Linked DNA regions of Homo sapiens. The protein of the gene in region 1 interacts with the protein of each later gene in a biochemical or structural test. Each region holds a gene or a part of one and is shown in the gene's direction. Other genes may lie near its edges.

Evidence for each region.
Region 2: the proteins of FAT1 (region 1) and VASP form a complex in vitro, tested with the Homo sapiens proteins (one study listed by BioGRID).

The regions. Positions count from the first base shown.
Region 1 is NC_000004.12:186,721,746-186,725,495, reverse strand, and holds the start of FAT1 (protocadherin Fat 1 isoform 1 precursor), read left to right. Parts: upstream 1-1,639; 5' UTR 1,640-1,832; intron 1,833-3,750.
Region 2 is NC_000019.10:45,524,399-45,527,553, forward strand, and holds the end of VASP (vasodilator-stimulated phosphoprotein), read left to right. Parts: intron 1-171; coding exon 172-262; intron 263-1,547; coding exon 1,548-1,605; intron 1,606-1,741; coding exon 1,742-1,779; 3' UTR 1,780-2,585; downstream 2,586-3,155. UniProt on the Homo sapiens protein: Ena/VASP proteins are actin-associated proteins involved in a range of processes dependent on cytoskeleton remodeling and cell polarity such as axon guidance, lamellipodial and filopodial dynamics, platelet activation and cell migration.

The DNA.
Region 1 (3,750 bases):
ATGTAAAACATCTAGTAAGCCCTAGGAAGCGTTATTACTTATTAATTAATGGTAATCTTCTCCAGGAATTCTCTTGTGCCATTTAAAAAAAATCCCGTGATTTTACGTCAGGGAATGGTATCTTTGTACTTTTTTTACTGTTCTTCTTTTCCCCTTTTAGCATTACTCCCGCTTCCTCGCTCCCAGGAAACGGCTGGAGTTCCGGTGTGTTTGGGTTTTGCTGAGATTTACAATTCGGCAAGCGGCACAAGCCGGTTGGGCTTGGAGATCAGGTCACCCACTTTCGAGGTGTTCCATGTATGAAATTGACCTGTAAGCACTTGGAGCAATTATGGCCGGGACAAACACGTCTTTGGATGATGGAGTTTGCATTTGCTGGATGTGTGAATCTATGTGTATTCCAACTGGTGGGCAGGGAATATAGGGCTACGAATCGGCACACTCATCTTGCAGGCATTATTTTTCCTTCCCAGCCACAACCTGCTAGACACCTTTATTATTATTATTTTTTCCGGTCACCTCTAAGATGGCTTATAAGGTGACTGCGTTAACTTTGAACCCAGGAAATTCTCTTTCACACTTGACTGCCCTGCCGTTCCCCTCCCCGCCAAGCTCCCCTCACCAGTCCCAGGGAAATCGGATCTCTTTGTCTTCCCAGTGTTAAAATGCCTGAGTCCCACAAACTTTCCGAGATCAAGTCCGCCCTCTTGTCCGGGCTGCGTCCCAGCGCCTCCGGCCCTCCGGGCTTCGGCCGAGTCCGCCCTGCGCCGAGCCTGCGGCTGGAGCCCTGCCCGCACCGGGGATGGGCTCCGCGCCCGGGACGCTCAGGCTGGGCGCCCGGCGCGGGGAGTTCTCGGAGCGGGCTTCTCGGCGCTGGGGCTTCCCCTCTGCCTAGGAACTTGCAGTTGTCGGCCTGGGGTCACGCTTTGGGGCCCCTGGGGCCGACTCCCGGGCTAGGAAGCCCGCGGGACGCCGCGACTGCCTTTTGTCCCACAGGCCTGGGCGTCCGGGGTGTCAGCGGGGGAGGCCAGGCGCCCGCGGCGGGGAGGGCCTGGGGTCTAACTCGGCAGAAAAAGGTCGCGGGGGAAGCGTTTCCATTTTCTGGGGATTGAAGGAGGAAGTAGATTCCGACCTAGCTGCATTCCTTTGGAGACCTGAAGGACGACTTCAGCCCACCAAACCTTCGCGGACCCAGAGCCGCGCCATTCAAATGCAGATTCAGGGGCTCCCAGAAGGCTATGGAAAAGCTAAAGGGATGCCTCTGGGAAGCTTTCTCATTAGGCCCCAGCCTTTTTTTTTTTTTTTTTTTTTTAGCTAAGCTAACGTTTCCCTTTCTTGGCAGGGAGCTTTCCCCAATTCCTTGCACAGCGCCTGTGGCTGGCCGTAACTAACCTCGGCATCACAAGCCTCGCCCTGCCCCTCGGAGCCGCGCTAGACCCCGCTGGGCGCCTTCTCGTCTCCCAGCACGGACCTGGTGTTCGCAGGGACTGGGGCTCTTTGGGTCCGGGCGGGACTGCGTGGCCGAGCCCGCGGTCCCAGAGCCGGCAGCCGGGGAAAGTGGGCTCGAGTTTCCGCGCCCGAGAAATGAGCGCCGGCGCCGGCGGGCGGGGCCGGGGCGGAGGGATCTCCTGCGCTCGGGGAGCGTGAGGCGCCGGCGCCGAGCTGGGCGGCCGGGCGCGGGGAGAGGGCGCGGGAGCGGCTCGTGCGGCAGGTACCATGCGGACGCGCGAGCCCGGCGAGGGCCCCGGCAGGCCCGGTCCCTGCTCGGGGGCGCGCTGAGACGGCGGGTGAGCTCCACGAGAGCGCCGTCGCCACTTCGGGCCAACTTTGCGGTTAGTTCGCTGGGGCGCGGGCCGGCGGGCGGGGGCGAGAGCGTGCAGCGCGCTGCGGTGCGGACTCTGTGGGTGTCCGCCCGGTCCCCGGCTCGGGCTCCGGCGCTGCCGAAAACGGATGAGCGCGCGACTTCCCGGAGGGTGGAGTGACTCGGTCCTTCCCAGTTGGGAAATTCAGCACTGGCTAGGGGGGTCCCGGCGGCGGAGCGGGAAAAGGAGGCGACCGCGCGGGACCGATCCGGGGCCATTGCTGGGGTCCGATCCTTTCTGACACGCCGCCTTCCCTCCGGGAGCTCGCCGGGCTGCGCCGGCCTCGCGGTCTCCTGGGGCATCCCGCCGTCTGCGAAAGACCCGCTCGCTGAGCGGTGCACGCGGGAGGCCTGCGCGGGGCTGCCGGGTCCCTGGGTCTCTGGGTGTTTGCGCCCTGCAGGAGCGCTGCCCGGAGGTGCAGATGCAACCGGTGGACTGCGGAGTGAAGGGCTGCGAGGCTGCATTTCGGGGCTGAACATCTGCACAATGTGCGGTTTGTCAGTGTTTTCTGTCTTCTCTGGAGGAGGAACTTCTAAGATCTTTTTAAAAGAAAGAGTTTTTGGTCCTTCATTGCCTTTAAAAAAAAATGCTTTCTTTTAGAGAGCCAGCTTTCTGCTGTGTGTTAGATTTTTTTGTTCCCGCTGATGTGAATTGCAAGGCTTTGGAAACAAGGACGCAATTGTATGAGTTAGGAAAGTAAACTCATAAATATTTTCTATGCAGTTAAGTTTTTTTTTTTGTCTGAACTGTGGTTTCATTAAGTGGCTTTTGTTAAGCAATTCCCGGGTGCCTGATAGAGGCGATTTTTTAAAAGTGGATATTAACAGTGATTATTAGTATGAGAAAAGATTGAAAAGAAAATGACCTTCAGATATTCATTTCCTTTTCAAAAGCAGATTCTTAATGCTTCGTATATTCAGATACAGGTTTCGATAGTTTAAGAAGGTATCTGTGTGTGAGAACTAGGTAATGGTGATGTTTTTCACACTATTCTTAATGAGTTTGGTTATGCTGTCCAACACATCCAGTTGTTACAGGGACGTTTGAAAAGGTGTTTCTCCAGTTAATAGTTAATTGTGATATTTGTCTTTGTCTTTTTGTCTTAGGAAGACAGCTCTGATTCCACAGTTAGAATTATTCCTTTGTATTTAAGATGTAAAAATACTTAAAGCACTATGTAATTTTTTAAAACAACAATTGGTATAAGCCTTGAGTGATGCTAAACATGGCATTTAACAAGCTCAAGGTAAGGTTTGATTTGAATGAAGTTTGCATTTGTATAACCATTTTTTGAAAAATGAACACCTTAAATGAGCCAAATTCTTTGGCACTCTGGAAAGAAGTGTGGTTGTTAGAGGACTTTATAAAATCATTTCGGGCCACCTGTATATTCATTTGTCTCTTTTGAAGTATCCCCGTTGGGTTCTCATCATGTTAGTAGATCATTTAAATCCATGGTCCGGACAGGTGCCAACAGAAAAATGTTTAAAAATTATGGCCGGGCGTAGTGCCTCACGCCTGTAAACCCAGCCCTATGGGAGGTCGAGGCGGGCGGATCACCGGAGGTCGGGGGTCCGAGACCAACCTGACCAACATGGAGAAACCCCGTCTCTACTAAAAATACAAAATTAGCGGAGTGTGGTGGTGCATGCCTGTAATCCCAGCTACTTGGGAGGCTGAGGCAGGAGAATCGCTTCAACCCGGGAGGCGGAGGTTGTGGTAAGCCGAGATCGTGCCATTGCAATTCAGCCTGGGGAAAAAAAAGAAAAGAAAAAGAAGAGAAGAAAAATCTTTAAAAATTATGCACAAACTAATTCTGTTTTCATTCCCCTGATCATCCTCTACCTTTCCATTGCCTTTAGACTTTGCTTTGAGGTCCCTTTGAAGC
Region 2 (3,155 bases), on another chromosome or scaffold:
AAACAAAACACAACAAACCAAAACCAAAAAAAAAAAAAACTGGGGCCCCAAAAATACTTGGACTTGCCCAATTTATAAGGCAGAGCTCAATGTGACCCCTGGAATAGGAGGCGGGGAAGCAGGTCCTCTCTCTAATCTCATTGCTGTCCCAAACCACACCAACTCCCCCAGGATGAAGTCGTCTTCTTCGGTGACCACTTCCGAGACCCAACCCTGCACGCCCAGCTCCAGTGATTACTCGGACCTACAGAGGGTGAAACAGGTAACTTGGGGGGGAAGTTGGGGACCACAGCAAGAGAGATCTAGGTCTGGCCCCTGCCACTGGCATGCCGTATGATCCTAGATAACATCTCAGAAACCTCAGGTTTCCAATCTGACAAATGGAGAAACTGGATTGGGTCAAGGATGACCGAGACTCCACACCCCCTTTTCTGGCACCTGTGACAGACATTATTAATCTATCACCGCGCTCATTCCAGATGAGTGCCTTGAATTCTTTCCGCACATTGACCCAGCTGTCCATCACCAATTGGAGTTGGCAGGAGGCTGGAATGCGCTTGCCAACCTTGGTACTGGATGTTCTCCAGTACTTTTCCGGCTCCAAGGATCCAGAATTCTCCCCTAGAATCCTCCAGTCACTCTGCGACCTTGACAGCGATGTCATGGTGTCGATGTAGGGGTAGGTCTCAAACCTACTACCCCTGGCTTTTCCATCAACAAGAAAGAGGGGACTCTGGCAGGGCACGGTGGCTCATGTGTGTAATTTCAGCACATTGCGAGGCTGAGGTGGGAGCATTGCTTGAGGCCAGGAGTTTGAGACCAGCCTGGGGCAACATCGGGAGACCCCCATCTCTAAAAATAACTTTTAAAAGTTACCTGAGAAGGCCAGGTGCGGTGGCTCATGCCTGTAATCCCAGCACTTTGGGAGGCCGAGGTGGGTGGATCACCTGAGGTCAGGGGTTCAAGACCAGCCTGGCCAACATGGTGAAACCCATCGCTACTAAAAATACAAAAATTAGGCTGGGAATGGTGGCTCACAGCCATAATCCCAGCAGTTTGGAAGGCTGATGGGGACGGATCACGTGAAGTCAAAAGTTCGAGACCAGCCTGGCCAACATGGCGAAACCCTGTCTCTACTAAAAATACAAAAATTAGCTGGGCCTTGTGGGGGGCACCTGTAATCCAGTTATTTGGGCGGCTGAGGCAGGAGAATCGCTTGAACCCGGGAGCCAGAGATTGCAGTCAGCCGAGATTGGGCCACTGCACTGCAGTCTGGGTGACAGGGAGACTCTGTTTCAAAAAAAAAAAGAAAAAGAAAAAGTTACCTGATTGTGGCGGCAGGTGACTGTGGTCCCAGCTACTTGGGAGGCTAAGGCAGGAGGATTACCTGAGCCTGGGAAGTTGAGGCTGCAATGAGCTGTGATCATGCCATTGCACCCTAGCCTGGGCAACAGAGCAAGGTTCCTTCTCAAAAAATAAAAGAAGGGGGATTCATTCCTGCAAGTCCCGGTACCCCCTCCTGATTAGTTTTACCCCATTAATTTTAGGAGCTTCTGGAAGAGGTGAAGAAGGAATTGCAGAAAGTGAAAGAGGAAATCATTGAAGGTGAGGTGGTTTGCTTTGGTTTTGTTCTTAAACATTTACTTATTTTGGAGGCATCATGTCCCTGGGCAAGAGCCCTGTTTTGGAAGGGAGGAGGCAGAGACTCTGCCCCTGACCTCTGCTCCTTGTTTCCTTCCAGCCTTCGTCCAGGAGCTGAGGAAGCGGGGTTCTCCCTGACCACAGGGACCCAGAAGACCCGCTTCTCCTTTCCGCACACCCGGCCTGTCACCCTGCTTTCCCTGCCTCTACTTGACTTGGAATTGGCTGAAGACTACACAGGAATGCATCGTTCCCACTCCCCATCCCACTTGGAAAACTCCAAGGGGGTGTGGCTTCCCTGCTCACACCCACACTGGCTGCTGATTGGCTGGGGAGGCCCCCGCCCTTTTCTCCCTTTGGTCCTTCCCCTCTGCCATCCCCTTGGGGCCGGTCCCTCTGCTGGGGATGCACCAATGAACCCCACAGGAAGGGGGAAGGAAGGAGGGAATTTCACATTCCCTTGTTCTAGATTCACTTTAACGCTTAATGCCTTCAAAGTTTTGGTTTTTTTAAGAAAAAAAAATATATATATATTTGGGTTTTGGGGGAAAAGGGAAATTTTTTTTTCTCTTTGGTTTTGATAAAATGGGATGTGGGAGTTTTTAAATGCTATAGCCCTGGGCTTGCCCCATTTGGGGCAGCTATTTAAGGGGAGGGGATGTCTCACCGGGCTGGGGGTGAGATATCCCCCCACCCCAGGGACTCCCCTTCCCTCTGGCTCCTTCCCCTTTTCTATGAGGAAATAAGATGCTGTAACTTTTTGGAACCTCAGTTTTTTGATTTTTTATTTGGGTAGGTTTTGGGGTCCAGGCCATTTTTTTTACCCCTTGGAGGAAATAAGATGAGGGAGAAAGGAGAAGGGGAGGAAACTTCTCCCCTCCCACCTTCACCTTTAGCTTCTTGAAAATGGGCCCCTGCAGAATAAATCTGCCAGTTTTTATAAATGCTAAGATCTCTGGAGTGATTTGAAGGCCTGTTCTGATGGGGATGGAGGTGTGCTCGGCCCCCGGTGCCCCTCCAGGAAGATTTGGTCCTCTGCTGAGAACCCCTGCCTCCTCCCAGGAATCCACCTTCCCTTCATCTTCCTTCCCACCCTGCATATTGCGCCTGCTCACTCATCCTCAGGCCCGCAGCCAGGATGATCTCTGCCCCCTCCAGCCTCCCTCCCCATGCCCCTTAGGAGGCCACTTCCTCCCCATCCCACCCTGCCCTTCACCACCCTAGGGGAGGCCAGAAGCAGCCTCACTTTGTGTAGCCTTGGGCAAGTCCATTTGCTTACCTCAGGCCTCAGTTTCTGATTTGGGAAAGGGCTCATAAGATGATTCTCTGCCCCCACTCTACCACTCTCCCAGCTTCTTTCCTCTTTTTTTTTTTTTTTTTTTTTAATGAGTTGGAGTCTTGCTCTTTCACCCAGTCTGGAGTGTAGTGGCAGGATCACAGCTCACTGCAGCCTTGAACTCCTGGGCTCAAGGGATCCTCCTGCCTCAGCCTCCCAAGTAGCTGGAACTACAGGC